Homo sapiens: one gene and its partner. The protein of the gene in region 2 purifies or fractionates together with the protein of the main gene of each other region. This does not show direct contact. Each region holds a gene or a part of one and is shown on either strand. Other genes may lie near its edges. The genes, in order: ASPHD2 and CLEC2B.

The links.
Region 1: the proteins of CLEC2B (region 2) and ASPHD2 purify together in Homo sapiens (co-immunoprecipitation; 2 studies listed by BioGRID and IntAct, with this or other methods). This does not show direct contact.

Annotation. Positions count from the first base shown.
Region 1 is NC_000022.11:26,437,660-26,447,804, forward strand, and holds the end of ASPHD2 (aspartate beta-hydroxylase domain-containing protein 2), read left to right. Parts: intron 1-4,799; coding exon 4,800-4,913; intron 4,914-5,437; coding exon 5,438-5,547; 3' UTR 5,548-7,022; coding exon of another isoform or gene 7,023-7,035; 3' UTR 7,036-7,356; downstream 7,357-10,145. UniProt on the Homo sapiens protein: May function as 2-oxoglutarate-dependent dioxygenase.
Region 2 is NC_000012.12:9,864,473-9,875,400, forward strand, and holds the start of CLEC2B (C-type lectin domain family 2 member B), read right to left. Parts: upstream 4,883-10,928; 5' UTR 4,733-4,882; intron 1-4,732. UniProt on the Homo sapiens protein: Membrane-bound protein expressed on myeloid cells which acts as a ligand to stimulate the activating receptor NKp80/KLRF1, expressed on the surface of natural killer (NK) cells.

The DNA of each region.
Region 1 (10,145 bases), on a different chromosome or scaffold from region 2:
TTTCTTTTCTGCATGTCATCAGATTTCTAGGTGGTCTAGCCGGGTGGTAACAGTAGATCAGCTCATGTTCCCCTTGCCCACCCTGAGTGCCCGGTTGCCAGCCGCCTGAAGTGGGGGCCACTGGTGGACACAGCCCTTTCTCTACCCTCCTTCCTGCCTCTTTCAGGGCTCGGTAGGGACAGAGCAGCAAAGCTTGAGCCATAGAGGAGCATATGGGACTATCTGAGGCCATGTGTGGGACCTGTCACTGTCCTCAAGAGCCACTGGAATGATCTGTTTAGGGAAGAATTGAGCTCTTCTGCCAACTAAGCTGGTTTGTGGGCAACAGGCAGGAATGGGGGCAGGAGCAGAATGAAGGGGAGGCGGAGAACAAGAAGCAGGGGGGTGTCAAGCCAGCAGGCCAGGCCATTTTTCTATCGCACCGTGGCACGTGGCGATGAATCATTTAGTGGCCCAGAGAAAGGGGAGCTTCTTTCTGAAACCCCGGGGTGGCTGTCCCTGCAGAGAACTGCCCATTCCTAAAGGCCTTCGCCACCTGAACCAGCCAGTAGGGGCACACGCCAAAGGAAAACGTAGCCTCTGAGTCCCTCCATCTGGGCGTCTTTACAGCCCTGACTCCCCCAGCTGCTGTTAACCATAGTGGGAAATCATGGCTTCTGTCAGGATGAGCAGTCTCAGCTGATTTAATGAAATGTACTATTGAGAGTTGAAACATATTAGGGTCCTCTTAGAGGGACAGAACTAATAGGATATATATATACACACAGATATATACACACATACATATATATACATATATATACACACACACATATATATACATATATATAGATACACACATACATATATATACATACATATATATACATACATATATACACATACATATATACACATACATATATACACATACATATATATACATACATATATATACACACATATATACATATATATATACACACATATATATACATATATATATACACATACATATATATATATACACATACATACATACACACACACACACACATATATATATAAAGGGGAGTTTATTAAGTATTAACCCACATGATCACAAGGTCCCACAATAGGCTGTCTGCAAACTGAGGAGCAAGGAAAGCCAGTCAGTTTCCAAAGCTGAAGAACCTGGAGTCCGATGTTTGAGGGCAGGAAGCTTCGAGCACTGGAGAAAGATACAGGCTGGGAGGCTAGGCCAGTCTCACTTTTTTATGTTTTTCTGCCTGCTTTATATTTGCTGGAAGCTGATTAGATTGTGCCTGCCAGATTAAGGGTGGATCTGCCTTCCCCAGCCCACTGACTCAGATGTTAATCTCTTTTGGCAACACCCACATAGACACACCCAGGATTAATACTTTGTATCCCTCAATCTAATCAAGTTGAAACTCAGTATTAACTATCAGACATGTTAACTACAAGAAAATCAGCAATCAGGCCAGGCACAGTGGCTCAAGCCTGTAATCCCAGCACTTTGGGAGGCCGAGTCAGGTGGATCTCTTGAGGCTAGAAGTTCGAGACCAGCCTGGCCAACATGGTGAAGCCCCATCTCTACTAAAAATACAAAAATTAGCTGGGCACGGTAGTGCACACTTGTAATCCCAGCTACTCGGGAGGCTGAGGCAGGAGAATTGCTTGAACCCAAGAGGCAGAGGCTGCAGTGAGCTGAGATCATGGCACTGCACTCCAGCCTGGGCGACAGAGCACGATTCTGTCTCAAAAAAAATAATAATAAATAAAGAAAAATCGAAAACTCCACAATCACTTTAATTCCTCTGTTAATAGTATAACAACTAGCATTTATATCATCATGTCCAGTTTTATAACAGCCTGTTCTTTGGAGTCAGGCTGACTCAGCAACACTAAATGGTAACTTTTTAGCAGGTCATTTAACTTCTTAGTTACCCCATCTGGAAAGTGGGTGAAGTGATACCTGTTAAGTGTGTATTTAGCACAAAGCTGAGTAGGAAGACACAGTAGGTCTTCAGTTATTGGTAACAAGGATAGAAGTCCCATAGCAGCCCTGGAAGGTTCAGTATGCTAATGTCCCCTCTTTACAGGTGAGGGTATGGCTCAGAGAGGCTGAGTGACTTGCCCAAAGTCACACAGCACATAAGAGTCACAACCAGTCGTCTGTCCCCAAGTCCTCCGTCCTTCTGTCTCCTCCATGTGGCCTCTTTATTTGAATTATTACTGTGAACGTACTTCCTGGAACCATTATTTCTGGTTCAAAGAATACATTAAAATACTCTGGCTGCTGGAAGGAAAGCTATTTCATTTTTATGCTAAAGGACATTAAATCAGAGGGGAATGCCAACTGGCCCAGGGTCATTGTGGTCACAGTGAGTCACTGAAGACAGATGAGACCACCACCCATCCCAGCTCCTCTTCCAGGACTCTGCTTCCCCCTGGGTGGGCCTTCCTGAGAGCTGTTGGGCTGACCCAACCCCTTCTGAAATCATTAGATGGCCACGGTGGCCCCTTCTTTTCTGGACATCAAGGTAGTGATGGGGGCCAAGTGTTTCTGCAGACCCTTGTGTTGGAAAGGGCGACTGAGGGTCACACATGGCAGTGTTCCAACCGGACCCCACTGGCCGGTTGAAGCATACGGCTTATTTTTTATTTTTTATTTTTATTTTTGAGACAGAGTCTCACTCTGTTGCCCAGGCTGGAGTGCAGTGGTGCGATTCGCCCAGGCTGGAGTGCGGTGATGCAATCTCGGCTCACTGCAACCTTCGCCTCCTGGGTTCAAGCAATTCTCATGCCTCAGCCTCCCGAGTAGCTGGGATTACAGGCGTCTGCCACCATGCCTGGCTCATTTTGGATAATTAGTAGAGAGAGGGTTTCACCATGTTTGAGACCAGGCTGGTCTCGAACTCTTGGCCTCACGCGATCTGCCCACCCCTCAGCCTCCCAAAGTGCTGGGATTACAGGTGTGAGCCACTGTGCCCAGCCAAGCATACGGCTTCTTACAAAGCTGCCAGTCTATTTCCTCTTGAACCTAAGCCATTACCTTAGAAGTGTCCTCCAGTTTCCCAGAATGAGGGCAGACGAAGAGCACGCCATTCTCCAGCCTCAAAACGGATTAAAAGGCTAGAACCCAAGGAGGAGAACACTGTGTGAGCCTTTGATTTTTTAATCGCAACTGAGATAGTCCTAGAGGGGAGACTACAGTAAACACAGTTACTGGGTAAGGCAAGGTTCTAAACCCAACCTCCCTGGATTTCTGGGGGTCCCCTGGTTAGGCTTCAGAGTGTAGTGCAAATGTCAGTCTGTGACTTTCATAAAAGGAATCCATGACCCAGAATAGATGAAGCCAATGAAGGAATGAATTTTTGCCAAGAGTGCAGTGAAGATCTAGATGGTGGCTTATAAACAACAAAAATGTAGAACTCACAGTTCTGAGGCTGGAAGCCCAAGATCAAGGTGCCAGCAGATTTGGCGTCTGGTGAAGGCCTGCTTCTTGTTCATAAATGACACCTTCTCACTGTGACTTCACATGGTGAAAGGAGGTGGCCAGGAGCAGTGGCTCTTGCCTGTAATCCCAACACTTTGGGAGGCCAAGGTGGGAGGATAGCTTGAGGCCAGGAGTTCGAGACCAGCCCGGTCAACATAGCAAGACCCCATCTTTACAAAAAAAAGTTTAAATTAGCTGGGCATGATGGTGCACACCTATAGTCTCAGCTACTCAAGAGGGTGAGGCTGGAGCATCTCTAGAGCCTAGGAGGTGAAGGCTGCAGTGAACTATGGTGGAGCCACTGCATTTCAGCCTGGGCAACAGAACAAGACCTTGTATCTAAAAAAAAAAAAAAAAAAAAAAGATGTCAGGCCAGGTGCTGTGGCTCATGCCTGTAATCCCAGCACTTTGGGAGGCTGAGGCAAGCAAATCTCTTGAGGTCAGGAGTTCGAGATCAGCTTGGCCAACATGGTGGAACCCCATTTCTATTAAAAATACAAAAATTCGGCCAGGTGCAGTGGCTCACGCCTGTAATCCCAGCACTTTGGGAGGCTGAGGCGGGTGGACACGAGGTCAGGAGTTCAAGACCCGCCTGGCCAAGATGGTGAAACCCCATCTCTACTAAAAATACAAAAATTAGCCTGGCACAGTGGCAGGTGCCTGTAATCCCAGCTACTCGGGAGGCTGAGGCAGGAGAATCGCTTGAACCCAGGTGGCAGAGGTTCCAGTGAGCCAGGATCGCGCCACTGCACTCCAGCCTGGGCGACAGAGTGAGACTCTGTCTCAAACAAAACAAACAAAAAAATTAGCCGGGTGAGGTGGTGGGTGCCTGTAAGCTACTCCAGTGCCTCCCAGCTACTCCGGAGGCTGAGGTAGGAGTATCATTTGAACCTGGGAGGTGGAGGTTGCGGTGAGCCGAGATCACACCACTGCATTCCAGCCTGGGCAACAGAGAGAGACTCCATTTCAAAAAAAAAAAAAAAAAAAGGGAAAAGAAAAAAAGATGCAAAAGGAGGTAAAGAAGCTCCCTTGGGCCTGTTTTATAAGGATGCTGCTCCCATTAGGACCCCACCTTCATGATCTGATCACTTTCCAAAGGCCCCACCTCCTAACACCATCACCTTGGGGTCAGGTTTCAACATGGGAATTTGCAGGGACACAAGCCCACAAGCCTTCAGACCATAGCACGGGCTCCAGAGGTGTGAGGCAGGTCAGGTGCTTTAGAAGTCAAAAACTCTCAGTAAGGCAAATCACCCCCTATCTCCTGGCCTTCCCTGAATCTTGCCTGCCTTCACTCTCCTTTCTCTGGTTTTCCTACAAGGTCTGAAAACTCCAAATGGCTGTGAGCTGGTGGTGGGGGGAGAGCCCCAGTGCTGGGCAGAAGGGCGCTGCCTTCTCTTTGATGACTCTTTCCTGCATGCTGCGTTCCATGAAGGTGAGTGGCTGCCTTTCCCACTTCCTTTTTTTCAATGAATAGACTTTTATTTTTTTAGAGAAGTTTTAGGTTTCCAGAAAAATCAGGCAGAAAGTACCAAGGAGGCCCCTTCATATCACCCCATAACACATATACACACACAGTATTGATGCGTTATTATTACCTAAAGTTCATGGTTGACATTAAGGTTCACTCTTGGTGTTGTCCATCCATTCTGTGGGTTTCGCCAAATGGATAATGACACGGACCTACCATGACAGTATCATACAGAATAGTTTCACTGCCGTAAAAATTCCCACTTAAAGATCCCTCCATCTCCCCATTTCCTTTTGTCCACCCTGCTCAGAAGCCCATGAAGCCAGGTTTATGCTCTCAGTGAGAGAGGAGGTGGTCCGATCCGAGCCGAGGGACAGGATGGGGTCCCTGCCCCGAAGCTGAGCACGTAGGGTCCAGCCCTGCCTGGATCCTGGGTCCTGACTCCAGGGTGGTTTGAACCTGTCCTCTCACCCCTCCTTCCCCCCCAGGTTCAGCAGAGGATGGCCCACGGGTGGTTTTCATGGTGGATTTGTGGCATCCAAACGTCGCAGCGGCCGAACGGCAGGCTCTTGATTTCATCTTTGCTCCGGGACGATGAGAGTATTTCCCATGCTGGAGTCGGCGAGAAGGGCCGAGGCGGGGCCTGGGCAGACTGTGGTCCGGTCCAGTCCCTACCGGTGTTGTTTCCATGCTCAGAAACCTGCCTCAGCGGAAAGCTCTTATTTGGGATTTTATATCATGTCGGGTCCCTCTTTCCCTTGGTTATTGTAAATGGAAACTTTTCGGCTTGTATTTCCTTAGATTTTTTTTTTTTCCTTCCAATCATTTGCTTCAGAGACTCCTTTCTGGCCTAACAGCGCATTCCTTTGATTGGTCCTTGAGTGACCAGAGACTTAGTGCCCTTGTAAGTCTGTCTTCTGTTGCTACTTGTTTTTTTCAGTGCTCTGAAATAGAGTAACTAAATGGTTATTTGTCTGAATATAATAATGTAAAACTTCTTGTGGTCATCTTAAAAAAAAAAAAAAAAAACTAAAAACTGCAAACCAGAGAGCTAGAGAACTTGGCCTCTGATGCTGGCACACTGGGGACCCTTCAGCCACCTGACGGCAGGGGGACAGTCTGCAGCCCCCACACCTGACTGGCTTCAGTAGCCAGGTGGAGGGGCTGCCAGACACAGTCAGGGTGGCACACAGTGTCCAGGCCCAGGGATACTGTCACCATCGCTCACCTCATTCTAAACCTTGTCAGGTCCCTGATGGCAAAAGCATTGGGCCAGTAGGACTGGAGGCTACTCTTTAAACATGGCTTTCCTGCAAAGCTGAAGCTGGTGTCCCCCAGCACCAAGCTGCGGCTCACACAGATCAGCCACGGAACGTGTGATCCGCTTACCTCACTGCCTACAGAAGCCCTACTGCCAAACTGGGCCTGGAAAATTCCCAGTTTTAGGTGTTTTGAGTCCACAGTGATGAACGTTAAGGCCACCAGGTTGGCTGATAGGAGCTGTAGGGGGATAGGACCGCGCTCACCCAGCGACATTTGGGGAAAGCCTTTCTCTGGCAAAACTGGAATAATAGATCTGACCAAAGTTTCTGTTTTGCTTTGGAGTTCTGTTGCCTATGTTTTTTTTTTTTTCATTTATTTGTCTGTACATAAATGTTCAAACACTAGACTTGGAGATAGTGGAAGAGTTGGCCCTGTGTCTTTGTCATGGCACAAAGGTGTGCACTGCGTGACAATGACCCAAGCCAGTGTGTGCTAGTGAGGAGACAGAGAAGACCTACATGCCCAGAGGACCCGTGGCCGTTGTGCTGGTTTTCTGGTCTCCTGTGAAGAACATGTGGATCTCTTCCCGAAGGAAAAGGTCCCAGGAGACCAGTTTGAGGCACTCACTCTAGAAATAGCCTGTGTTAGCTGATGTGTGAAAGCGTAGCCGGCCAGCCACACTAGAGATGCCTTTTCTGAATAATGTATTATGAGCAGTGTCAGATTTATAAAGCCGAGGAGTGGTTTGGAATATACAGCTGGTCGCAGGTGCAGGTCCAGTGTTTAGATCCAAATGGAAAACAGCAGCTTCTAAGAGGTACAACTGTTGGAAGAAAACACAGTTGAAATGCACCAGGCAGGTACTAGCAAGTGTGCAAAGAGCACGTCTACATTTGAGTAAAATGTCTACACAGATATTTGTCAGTGATGAGAATGCAGGAAAAGGCAGACATTTCAAACATACCTGAAGTCTTTTTACTCATTATCTTGTTAAAGAATCACTGAGGTGCATGATTTCTACACATCGTGACTGCTCTGCTCTGCGTTTACAAAACCAACAGCCCGCGCAGGTACCTAGCTACCTGCATTCATGTGACATGTCTGGGGAACAGAAGATAAATAAAGGATCTTGCTGAAAACCAGAGTGAAGTGGTGAGGTCATCTGTTGTAAAGAAAGACTTAGGCCAGGCTCGGTGGCTCACGCCTGTAATCCTAGCACTTTGGGAAGCTGAGCGGGGAGGATTGCTTGAGCCAAGGAGTTTGAGACCAGCCTGAGTAATATAGTGAGGCGTTGTCTCTACCAAACAAACAAACTAGCTGAGTGTGGTGGTGCACACCTGTAGTCCCAGCTATTTGAGAGGCTGAGGTGGGAGGATCACTTGAACCTGGGAGGCGGGGGCTGCAGTGAGCCTAGGTCGCGCCAGTGCACTCCAGCCAAGACGACAGAACAAGACCCTGTCCAAAAAAAAAGACTTGCTAGGCAGAAGGGGGCAAGTGACTTTGAGGCTCTTGTGTTTTGAGTGATGTCACAGAGACAGGCGGGTCACTAGAATTGATCGTGGATAGTGAATGAAGCAAAATGTCCCAAAGCAATGGGACTAGTGGGGTGGGGACAAGAGCACATCTAGGATATGTTAAGGAGCAATAGATGTCTAACTGGGCAAAGAAGAACAAGGACCCTGGCTTCAGAAAAGCTGAGGATTTAGGACTCCGTGCCAGGAGTTTGCACCCTCGGGACCTTGGGCAAGTCCCTTAGCCTCTCATAGCCTCAGTTTCTCCTCTGTGGGTATGTGCAGTATCTGGCACATGAAGGGCACTCAACAACCTTGTTTCCCTTTCTGCCACAGCTGAGTAGAGAAACAGGTGAAGAGGAAGGCCGCCAAATGGAAGAGATGGGAAAACACATCGGGACAGCAGTGGGTGTGGCCAGAGAAGCCAGTGGCTACTTTCAATTGCCTGTGTCTAATCACAGAGGAAGAAACATGTCCCTCAGTAGCTGTGTTTTTCATGTTTTTCCCTTTAGAAGAGAGGGAGACAGGGGGGTCTCCCAGCCAGGAGCCCTAGAAGCAGCCGGGCTGCCGCATGTTTCCACCTGCAAGCGAGGTTCCAGCCAGCTGTCCGGGCTGGGCTGCCACAACAAGCGGAAGGGAAGAGCGCCACTCACCTGGGATCGCGATGTTTCTCACCCTCCTCAAGTGTGCATTGCCAGCTAGGCATTGCTAAGCTAATTTACGTGTTGTAGCTCTGGAGGCTCAAGGTGAGAAAGGGGAGCCAGCCGGCTGCAAATGGGAATCCTGCCTTCCACCCGAGACAGGCTGGACTGGCCTCAAGCTCCCTCTGTTCCCATGTACTCAAGGCCAGACCAATTACTATTTGTAGAAGGTCACACCCCAGGTCTTCTGATCCCAAACCCTTTCTCCCAGGCACCTGTTCATCAGCCCCTAGAGTCACCCAGATTGTCTGGGTTCTGTCCTTGGTGACAGCGATTAAACTTGTAACACTGAGTGCTCCGTAGCATACTGTGGGGGAGAGGAGTGATCCTGGTGTGCTGGTCCTTGACTGTGGCTGCACGATGCAGTCACCCGGGAACTTGTCGGAAACCCCAAAGCACACACCCCACTCCCAAAGCATCTTTTTTCATTGTTCCGAGAGTGGGGTCCAGGCACGGGTCTTTGTTTTAAACTCATTTCCGGTCATGATTCTAACGTGTAGCTCAGGCTGAGGGGGTCGCTGCTGTGAGTAGCAAGAATGATAAGGCCTTTGAAACCATTCAGCCTGGACATTAAAGTCTGAGCTATGGCCCTGTGTAACACCGGGCAGGCCACCTAAGCTTGGTCTCTAGAGGACAGTCACTGTTTTTTGTTATCTGTTTTTGTTTTTTTGAGACAGAGTCTCCTCTGTTGCCCAGGCTGGAGTGCAGTGGCGCAATCTCGGCTCACTGCAACCTCCACCTTCTGGTGATTCTCCTGCCTCAGCCTCGTGACTAGCTGGACTTACAGGTGCCCGCTTCCACGCCTGGCTAATTCTTGTATTTTTAGTAGAGACAGTTTCACTATGTTGGCCAGGCTGATCTCGAACTCCTAACCTCAAGTGATCAGCCTGCCTCTGCCCCGCAAAGTGCTGGTATTACAGGCATTAGCCACCACGCCTGGCCAGCAGCCACTGCTTTTAAACCTATCCTGCCAACAGTATGAGCCTCTTGCAAGACCATAACATCCCCATGCTCAGTCCTTGGGTCTCCAGGGCTGGGCCCATGATCCAGATCTGACCAATCAGTCTTCCAAACTCTGGGCCACTGAGAGATTGGGTCAGGGCTGGACACGTGATCCAAGTTCTTTTTCTGGGACGACTGTGAAAGAGAGGCCACTTTTTATTAGGTGGGGTGGTGGGGGGAGGTGAAGGGAAAGAAGCTGAGAGAGAAACCCACGGAGGCAAGCGGGGCCTGCGCTGTGGAGATCACGTGAGTCCTGAACGCAGCTCTGCCGAAAACCAGCTCTACCTCTGGACTTTTCTGTTACATGAGCCAATAAGTGCGCCTTTTATTCGTAAGCCAAGTTTGAGTTGTGGTTTCTATCCTTGCCACCAAAAGTCCTAATCCACTCTGTGAGTGTCAAGTGAGGTTTTGGTAAGATGCTATTATGTCGTGGTCTGGGTGGATGGGAGAGGTGCTCCATACACATTGTCAGGATGTAAATATGAGTAGCAGAGGCTAAGCACAGAATGAGGTTTTTGAGGACCGTCATGCCTGCTGCCAGCAACCTTCCATAACATTTAACTCCCCAGCCGAATCTTGCTAACCAGATGTAAACACAGGGAACAGGACAGAATAAGGCCACATATTTTAGAACTGCTGACAGATGGCAGGGAAAACACTCAAGCAGATTGCAGCATTAGGAGGCAGGAGGGAGCACACACAGGGATTGGTTTACTTTC
Region 2 (10,928 bases):
TATCAAGAACAATGATAACTGCAGAAACCAGTTAAGAGGTAAGCAATAAAAATATGTGAATTGGGAAAACTAAATTAAAAATGTGTGAGGGTGGAGTAAAAGTGTTTTTTTCCTTTGTTGCTATTCTTTGTGATATAAGTTGTTATCTCTTTAAAATAACTTGTTATATCTATAAGATTTTTTATAAGCCTCATAGTAATCACAATGCAAAACCTATAGTAGAGTCATTAAAAATAAAAAGCAACTAATTAATATATACCACCAGAGAAAATTATATAACCCCAAAGAATGACAGTAAGAAAAGAAAAAAGAGAGAAATTTAAAAACAACCATAAAACAAGCAACAAAACAGCCCCAGAAAATCCTTACTTAACAATAACATGGAATTTAAATGAACTCAACTCTCCAATTAAAAGACATAAAGTGCAGGCCGGGTGCAGTGGCTCACGCCTGTAATCCCAGAATTTTGGGAGGCCAAGGCAGGCAGATCATTTGAGGTCAGGAGCTCAAGACTAGCCTGTCCAACATAACGAAACCACATTTCTACTAAAAATACAAAACTTAGCTTGGTGTGGTGGTGTATGCCTGTGATCCTGGCTACTCAGGAGGCTGAGGCAGGAGAGTCGCTTGAATCCAGGAGTTGGAGGCTGCAGTGATCTGAGATCATGCCACTCCACTCCAGCCTGGGCAATAAAGCAAGACTCTCTCAAAAAAAAAAAAAAAAAAAAAGCATAAAGTTAAAGTGGCTGACTTGGTAAAGAGAAAACCCTAACTGTATGCAGCCTACAGGAAATCTGCTTCACCTATAAAGACACACAGAGAATGAAAGTGAAGGGGATGAACAAAGATATTCCATGCAAATAGAAACCAAAAAAGCCGGAGCAGCTATACTTATATCAGATAAAATAGATTACAAAACTTTAAAAGACTACTTTAAAAAGAGACAAAGGTTACTATATAATGCTAAAGAGGTCAATTCAGCAAGAGGATATGACAGTTCTAAAAATCTATGGACCCAACACCAGATCTCCCAAGTATATAAAGCAAACATTCATTGATCTAAAGGGAGAGATAGACTGCAATGCAATAATATTGGGGGACTTTAACTCCTCACCCTGAGTAATGGACAGATAATCTAAACAGGAAATCAACAAGGAATATTGGAGTTATACTGCACACTTTACCAAATATATCCAACTGACACGTACAGAAGCACTGCTGCAGAATACTCATTATTTTTATCAGTACATGGAGCATTCTCCAGAACAGACCACATTGTAGGCCAAAAAACAAGTCTCAATAAATTAAAAAAAGTAGAAATCTAATCAAGTATCTTTTCTGACCACAATGGGATGAAACTAGAAGTCAATAACTTGAGAAACCTCAGAAACTGCACAAACATGAAAATTAAATAATGTGCTCCTTAACGACCAAAGAGTCAATGTTGAAATTAAGAAAATTTTAAAAATTTCTTGAAACAAATGAAAATGGAAGCACAATAAACTAAAATCTGTGGAATGCAGAAAAGCAGTACAAAGAAGGAAGTTTATAGTAATAAATGCCTTTAAAAAAAGGTAAAAAGACTTCAGATAAATAACCTAATGATGAACTTAAAGGATTTGTAAGAGCAAGAACAAACCAAACCCCAAATTAGTAGAAAAAAGAAGTGTTAAAAAATCAAGCTCTTTCTGATGAGGTTTCTTATCTTTCATATATAACCTTATTAATATCATGAATTATTTATTAATTTTCTTTAAACCTCAGGTATCGAAAAGACAGGAAGTTTTTTCTCTGTTTTCAATGCCATGAATCAAGTAAATATGTCAGTATGTCATTCCGTTTTTCTCCCCATGAATTGGCATAATGTAAAAATATAGATGTTAGAGATATCATGATTTCAAAATCTTGATCAAACCTTTGTGGCATGTAATTGTATTTTCTTACCCCCATTTGATCCTATACTCTTCATCCATTAACTAGTACCACTTCTATTTTTTTTTAAAGAGCATATGTGTGTTGTGTTTTTAGAAAGTATAGTTACAACAGGAAGTAAATAAAAGGTAACTTTTGCTATTATTTTTTTCTTGTGTTATAGTTGTCCTGTTTTTAAATATTTTAATTATTTTGTGTGTGTTAAGAGTGTAAAGATTATTTACATTTGCAGCAAGTGGAAGTATTTTTTGAGTCAATTTCATATCTGTTATTTGAAGGAGGTAGTCAGACCATTTTGATATTCTTTCTTCCAGAATGACTGTTGAAAAGAAAACCCTAAGCTGCTTAAATCAATGGCCTTTTCAATTAAAAAAAAATCTAGCTTATTGAAGTAATGTTTCTGAAAATTGTGAAGGGATTTTAAAAAGAGGAAATAACTTCGAGCTAACAGGTAGAGAGAAGGGCAATGCACATCCTGACAATATGAGAAATGACAATTTGCAGATACAGCGGAAAATAGGAGCCCTTTCCATTGCAAAGTTGGCAAGGTATTAGAGTATAAGGACTTGGTGGTGTATACAGAGTTGGTAGATTTTACGTACAGATGACCCCAGCTTCAAAAAAGATGATCGTACTTTAAATGTGGCAAAGAAACAGTGTGGCTTTTGTTATGAGTTCAGCACAAAATAGCAGAGCTAGACCCGAAGAGGTCATTTATATTGGAACATGGTCTTCTCAGGTGTAATCAGTGGAAACTGATGAATGGAGACCATTATAACACTTTGGTGTCTTATACAACCTGGGAAACTTCATATAACCTTGGAAGAAATCTCTCACTCTCAATACCACCAAATGACAGAAAGTAAGTAAACTGTCCTGTCCATTCAGTGGGATGGAGACTTGAAGTAACATTTAATTTTATTTAAATAACTAATGAATTCAACATTTATTGCATGTCTGAATATGTAGGTACAAATTTAAACCTATTATGTGTTCATTCTCTACTTAATCTATATCGTGAACCCTGAAATCTAGCTTTTTACACTCAGCATAAGTTGTTTTCAGTTGTTTTTAATTTCCCAGAATCTTTTCATTGTTACTGAATTCTCAATACTTATTTAGGAGGCTGTAATTATTTACATGAGTTATCAGAAAAATTAGTGGCATTGGTAGAATGTGGTTAGCATAGCTGCCTTTCAAACAAATTAAAAAATTGTGATCTCCCACGATGAAGCTGATATCGAAACATGAATTTCAAAGTTGTTGAGCCTTCTTAACGTTTGATGAGGCTATGCTTAAAAGGACACTTCCCCAGACAGTTCGAGAACAATGGATTTAATTAACAGTGTAACTAAAATAGTTCTATATTTAAATGTATAATCTAAACAGTTAAGGACTGCAATTGTTTTCCCCATAGAAAAGTTTCAGTGACTCAACTGTTTTCTGTTTGATTCTGCTCTCTAAGGAAAGATAAGAAAGATGCAGAGTGACCAATGCATTTAAAATCAAACAGAATATTATTTTTCTTGGCTAATAGCTATAGAAAAAAATCATAAAATACTGATAAGCAGAGCAAATAAAATATTTGTTAAAATGTATATAAAAACTGACTGAATTATATCACACTGCCCTAAATTACCGCTATTAAAACGATGTTCATAATTTCAGATATATATGTATCTATAATATATACAATATTATACTGAATATATTATTCAGTAACTTTTAAAATATATTCATATGTAATATGATATATAATATTGTATTATATAATGTATTTATATACAAATGTATAAATTTATACAATTGATTGAAAGTAGAAAATAACACTGGTTTTACTAGTGGCTGGAAGGCCTTCTTAAAACTTTTGATTAAAATGATATTTTATGCTACCATCAAATATTGATCTCATTCCCCGCAAACCTGTTTTATCTAACTTTAGGCAGAATTATAAAACCGGTTAAAATACGGGAGGAAGGATAAAGTGTGCATTCTATTGTACCACAGCAATAATTTTTTTGACCGTAGCATACGCTGGTAGGTTGACATTTAGTTAAACGGGAAATGCTTAAAGCTCATCACAGTCCCTAAATCTCTAAATCATAGATCGTTGTATTGAATGCATTTAGTTTCAGCCTTTTCTCTTTCAAATATTTTGACATAAATAAACCCTGTTGAAATCTCAAAGATGTAGCTTGGATCTTATATATTCCGAACTTGCTATTTAATAAATCCAATGTTACCAGGTTGTTTCATAGTGTATTTTTTAGAACATTTTCTTTCCTTATCCTTCTTAGGGTTGGTAAAGACATCTCCATGGATATCGGAGTACTAGCAATTCCTTAGTAAGAGTAGGAAAGGGATATATTCTTTCCGTTAAGTACTCCTAAAGCCCGGAGTATCTTTACACCATCCAATAAAGCAATCTTTAAAAATATTAGAACTATTGGCTAAATTTATCATATTATGTATGCATTCTGAGAACTGTATGAGTATCTGGATCATATCTATCATCTTCTCAAGTATTTGTTTTATAAAATACTTAGTAAAAATGAAACTAAATCTTGAGCAGTTTTAAGTCATGGTTAATCCTTCTCCATTGTAATTCAAATAATGTAAAGTAAGTCTGAATTTATTAGGACAAAACAGTCATATGCAAATCTCAATCTTGTTATAAGAAGGAATTTTCTAGTTTCACAAAAGAAACCACAAAATTTAATTCTTTTCTCGAAGGCTTTAACATTCTGCATCACAATTTCAATAAATAACGGTCATTCTAAACAAACAAAAATGTTCTTACCGTGCTTCTTTTAATCAGCGTTTTGATTTTCTGCTAGCAGCTTTGTGTCATGTCTTGCAGAAACTCTCTTCAAAGTTGTAACTTTATTTAACTTTAATATAAAAATGTTACTCTTGTTTTTACAGCACAGCTCCAAACTAGAGGTATACCACTTTTGAAGAGTAACTCAAAGTATAAATAGCATTTTGCAAACTGGAAGTAACCATGTGACTATCTATTAGTCATACTGTTGTTTATTACAATTTTCTTCTCGTCAAAAAAGAAAGCTTGCCAAGGAGGAAGGAAGTTTGTGATATAACAATTTAAAGCTGAAGAATAAACACATATTTTCTTACTTTCTCAACTGGGATTCTCATCTGAACCACAGAACACGAAATTGCTCAAGTGGCTGTTTTTCTGATTCATCCAGGAGTGGTACTTAACCACGTATCCTTCCAGAACTGTAGGAGAGGCTGATACTAATTAATTCAACAGCATTCTTTAGGACATTACTGCTTTCTTATCCTGTGTTAAGAAAGATCACCTTAAAAGCGATAGAATCAAAGAAAAAGCAATGGTTTAAACTTTGGCTACTGAAAGAAAAACAAAAACTATTATCTCTCTCTCAAAGACAAATGCGTGCAAAGTCACACGTGTGGGTGTGAGCACACACACAAACACACACAAAGACACACAGAGGGAAAAAAGAAAACGAAAGTAACAAAGTGCCCAGAACGTTATCATCAGCATACAAGATGACACCATTATGCTTTTGCTAAGTTACCAGGCCACAATTTTGTCTTCAAATCTGCTCTAATCAGTTTCCCAGTGATTTTGTATTACCCCTCAACAAATATATTAGGGAGGAAACTGAGGAGAAGAAGCCAGTGTCCCGCAAGCGGCTTCGGGATTAACACTGCATTTGTTCTGAGAGAGAAACTTGAAGAGGAAAAGCAAATGAGAATAGAGAAGAAACTGTAGTACAAAGGAATTAAAACAAAGAAAATATGAAGAGAATAAGAAATACAGGTTTAATCATTTCTGGGCAGAAGGAAAGGACAGATAACAAAATTGCTCTTTTCATTTTTGGACAGAAAAAAAAGACAGAAAATTCATGAGGAAATGAATATATTCTACCTTTGTTGTTAACAAAAGATTGTATCCAAAGAACTATTAGAAAAGCATGTATAGAAAAATATAGAGATTACTCAAGTATGGTTGAGTGAAATTTAGTTTTGTTCCAAAAAGGAAAACAGTCAAGATACAACAGTTAAGATATAAAACATTTTCAACACAGGGAAATGTTCCCCGCTGTTGCTTTGCAGTTCATCCTCACCCCTGAAGCCAGGCAGCAGCCAACTTACTGTCAATAAACATGAGCTTTGCTGGTTTTAGAAATTCCTGTTAAGCAGAATGATACAGTTGGCAATTCTTGTAAGTCTGATGTCTTTCACTGAGCATAATGTTTTTGAGTTTTATCCATGTTTTTGCACAGATCAGCAGTTAATTTCTTTTTATTACTGAGTAGTATTTCATTGTACAGACATAAAATATTTTTATCTATTTTATAATAAAATGTATCCATTATGACATTGAGCTTTTTCCACTTCTTGGATATCATAAGGTCAAAATAAACATTTATGCAAAAGTTTTTCTATTGACACGTTTTTTAATCTTTTGAAGAAATACCTGGATGTGAAACTGCTAGGTTACATAGAAAATGTATGTTTTATTTTATAAATGTATTTTTTTCCAAAAAGTTGTGCCATTCCCAACATGAATATTGGATGGTTCTATTTGCTCCACATAAATAGCAATATTAGATATGCCCAATCTTTTTCAATTTAACCATTCTAGTAGGCGTGTAGTAGAATCTAAATGTGATTTTAATTTGTACATCTCTGATGTTATATTGAGCATTTACTCACGTGCGTATTGGTAACTCATATATCTTTTTTCAATGACCTATTTAAATATTTTTCCCATTTTTATGGATTTATTTGTTTCCTTATGGTGATTTTTAAGATTTTATATATATGTAAATATATATGTAGAGAAACATACACATAAAAATGTGTATATAAATAAGTAAAATGGGTTGCAACATAATATAGAAAAATTCCATTTTTAGATAAATGTATTAAAAATACTTTCCATCATTTGTATAGTGACTTTTCACAATTTTTTTTCTCAAAAATTTTAAAAATCTAGAAGCTTCTAAACGTTGGACTCTCTAATCCTAACAAAGTTACATGTTCTCCCTTGTCGAGGTCATGCCTTTTTCCTTAAAGAAAATATTGTGCCCTTCACACCCTCCTTACAGGAATCCCTCCCTTACTTGCCTTTCTTAGTTATTGGTCATAAGGCCAATAACTAAGGTTATGTGCTAAGCTTATAAGGGAGAGAAAGGGCTATACTCAGAATGAATTTGGACCTAACCAATATATAATAACAACAGCTTGGAGTGTACACAATGGGATTGGATTCTGAGGGTGCTAGATCATGAGAGAAACATAAAGCTGGATAAGGGAGATTTTATCAACATTAGGGCATTCAGTTGCAATACAGAATTTAATAACTTGGAAAAATACTGTGAACAGTGCTGACATACTGCTGAAATAACTCCAAGAAGATTGGAGAAAGCAATGGCTCACGCTGAGTAGAGTAACATTCCAGAATTCCCATGGCAGGTAGCTGAAGAAAAGATAAAAATGCTTAGAGAAGTGGGCATGCTACAGTGGATAAACTAGATAAGGACAGGAAACCCACCAACTGACTATGTTCTATGGGATGATATAATGGGCACCTTATTTACCAAAGCAGTAAGGAAGGCGCTGGTGGAAGAACTTAAGTCCTACATAAACATCACTGAGAAGCTTAGCATAGTTCTTCTCTACATGCCAAAGATTACAGTGGGAGATGTTCCCACAGAACTGAATTCAGAGAGAGTATTGGGACAGGGTTTGAAGTAGGAAACGCCAAGTGTCAGAGTGCCACTCTGAAACAAGCTGGGGCCAATTATAGTAATGAGGGTCAAATTGCAATAGCAGCCAGGATTACTGACATATAGAGCCATAGCAATGTCAGATAGAGCTCAATGTTCACAGAAGTAATATAGAGAGCCAAAAAGGGTGCTTCCACTTCTGTGCTGTCCTTTAACAACTGGTGGAACAGAGAAAAACACACACATAACAAGCTCTGGTTTGTAACACCAGCTGATTTCCGTGATGTAATTATTCCCACCATTGCTGATTTCAAGGTACCCAGGTGACATCACTGAACACACAGAGTTGGAAATAAATATGCAGTAGTACAGCATTACGTATTATTTTCACTATACGGATGTAACAGATGTTAATAATTTCATGCATGGATAATAGCAAAATCTTCTAAAAATCATCACAAATTGATGAGTTCTAAGTATTTATTTTATTAGCTTGGCATTAGGGCCACAATGACTCCAAATGTCATGACCCAGGTTAGGTTCCAGCCCATGCTGAGGTCTGAGGGGAGTGGGTGGATGGGCGATAGCTGAAAGAACACTTGGGGGCCCTAAGCAGGTGAAATGTAGTTTTATTTACCAACAGCGACTCTCTCACACTGTCTGCCTTTATCTCCGCTGTCTGCTCTGGCTCTGGGACTCCTGCCGCCGCCACGCCTGCAGCAGCACGCCCTGGCCTGCAAGGCCAGCTCTGTCAGGATTAGCAGCTTAACTCTTTCCCTCTGGGCACAAGCTCGTTCCTGGTTCCCCTCTGCCTGCCTTCAAGGCGACTGGCTCTCCCTTACAAGGGTCAATAGTGCTACTCTCTTTCTGGGCACCAGTGCGAGCCATGTCATGCCATGCCACGCCATGCTGAGCCAAGGCAAGCCCAAGAGCGCCTGTACAGCATCAGCAGGGCAGTTATACCTTTTCCAAACAATAGTGGATTTGAGCCAAGTATGAGCTTACACAAACAGGTTATATAACAAGTGGAGTTATATGCCTGCACTCCAAACTCATTAAGTCACTATGGCCTGGATGTCTGCCTCAGCCTACTTCTTGACCAAAGCACATTTATGCACCTTACTGTTGGTGCAAAAGTTACTTTAGATAATTTTTAAAAATAATGATGTTTAACAATTGGCTCGAGAACCCTTGAAAATTTAACAGTCAGCTGTATACCACTGACTTTGCTGGACATGTACAACGGGAAAGAAATCAAGGGTGGATTACTAGTAGGCTAAGGGCAACCATGTACTCAAAACGTATAAACTATTACCCTAATCTAGTTTGGCCCAAGCCAGTTTTCTGACAGAGGACCCAATAATGGGAGAACTCATCCTTAAAAAGAAGCCCTCTTCAACACCAAGACTAGAGTAAATGGTAAGTATTTCTCCAGTCCATCCCCAGTGCGACTTATATTAGGCTTCTCAAGCTACCATAATGAAATAACATAGGCTGGGTGGCTTAAACAACAGAAATTTATTTTTCATCATTCTGGAGGCTCAAAGCCTAAGATCAAGGTGCTAGCCAGGTTAGTGTTCAATGAGGTCTCTCTTCCTGGAGCCGACTACTGCCTTCTCACTGTGTCCTCACATGACATTTTCTCTGTGTATGTGCAGAGAGGGTATCTTTCCCTCTTTTTATATGTATACCAGTCTTATGAGATTAAGGCCTTACCCTTATGACCTTATTTAACCTTAGGTTCCTCCTAAAGACACTCTCTTAAAATATAGTCACACTGGGGGTTATGTCTTCAGCATATGTGTTTGGATAGGAGCACAAATCAGTTCACAACAGGATTCATGGCCATTTATTTGAATAACTGGGAAAAAATCCAGGACATACATTTCTAGGATTACAGAATGCAGATGTAAGTTGACATTGATTCCCAAGAAAGGATCATGACCCTCCTGTTAGAGTAGAAGCTTATGGAGTCCCAGTAATAGAGTATTTGCTTATGTCTGGTTCACAGTAGGCCCAAGGACTCACCCAGTAGACATTCTTTGGTCTTTGAATACATAATGGGACACCACATACTTAAGAATTGGTACAAAGTTCACATTGGTTCCTTGGCCAGCTTGGTATGTACTGCGGTGAGAAAGACCAAGGCTCCTGAAACTGCTCCCCTCCTCTCCACTGGACATGATAGTCAACCCAAAATAATTCTGCATTATAGAGCGAATGACAAAGGTTATTGCCACCCATAAATACCTCAAAGACACAAGGATGCTGGTATCCATTTACCTCTATTTTATTCACCAGTGCAGCTCTGACAAAACTATATGGATTCTGGATGATGACAATTGATTATTGCAAGCTCAATCAAACAATAATTCCAAGTGTAGCTGCTGATTTAAATACAGAATACTTGTTAAAGCAAATTACCCTATGCTCAGGTACAGAAAATATGGCCATTAATTTGGCAAAAGAATTATTTTTTTATCTCTTTTAACAAATGAGTACCAAAAATATTTGGTAGTTATTTAGGGCTGACATGAGTAGACACTTACATTCTTGCCCCAGGTCTGTTAACTGTCCCACTGTCTATCATAATATAGTGAAGAGACCTGGACTGCTTGGACAGCCTACAAAATTTAACTCTTGTTCACTGTGCTAATGACAGTATACAAATTGAACTAGATGAGAAAGAAGGAGCAAGTACATTGGAGACATTGGTAAGATGCATACACTTCAGTGAGTTGTGAATACAGCAAAGATTGAATGGCCACTGCATCACATCAGTGAATTTTTTTTTTTTGGACAGAGTCTCATTCTGTCGCCCAGGCTGGAGTGCAATGGCGCAGTCTCGGCTCACTGCAAACTCCGCCTCTCGGGTTCATGCCATTCTCCTGCCTCAGCCTCCAGAGTAACTGGGACTACAGGCACCCGCCAATTTTTTTATATTTTTAGTAGAGACGGGGTTTCGCCATGTTAGCCAGGATGGTCTCAATCTCCTGACCTCGTGATCCACCCGCCTCGGCCTCCCAAAGTGCATCAGTGAAATTTTTATGTTTACATGGGTTTGGTGCACGCCAGGGCATCTCTTTAAAAAAATAGAGGACACAATGTCTGGTAGTCTTCATTGGATACTGAAGGGCCATTGTTCGTACTTGGAAATAGAGTTCTAACATACATATTGGTGTGTCTGGAATTGGTGGGTTCTTGGTCTCACTGACTTCAAGAATGAAGCGGCGGACCCTCGTGGTGAGTGTTAACAGTTCTTAAAGGCGGCGT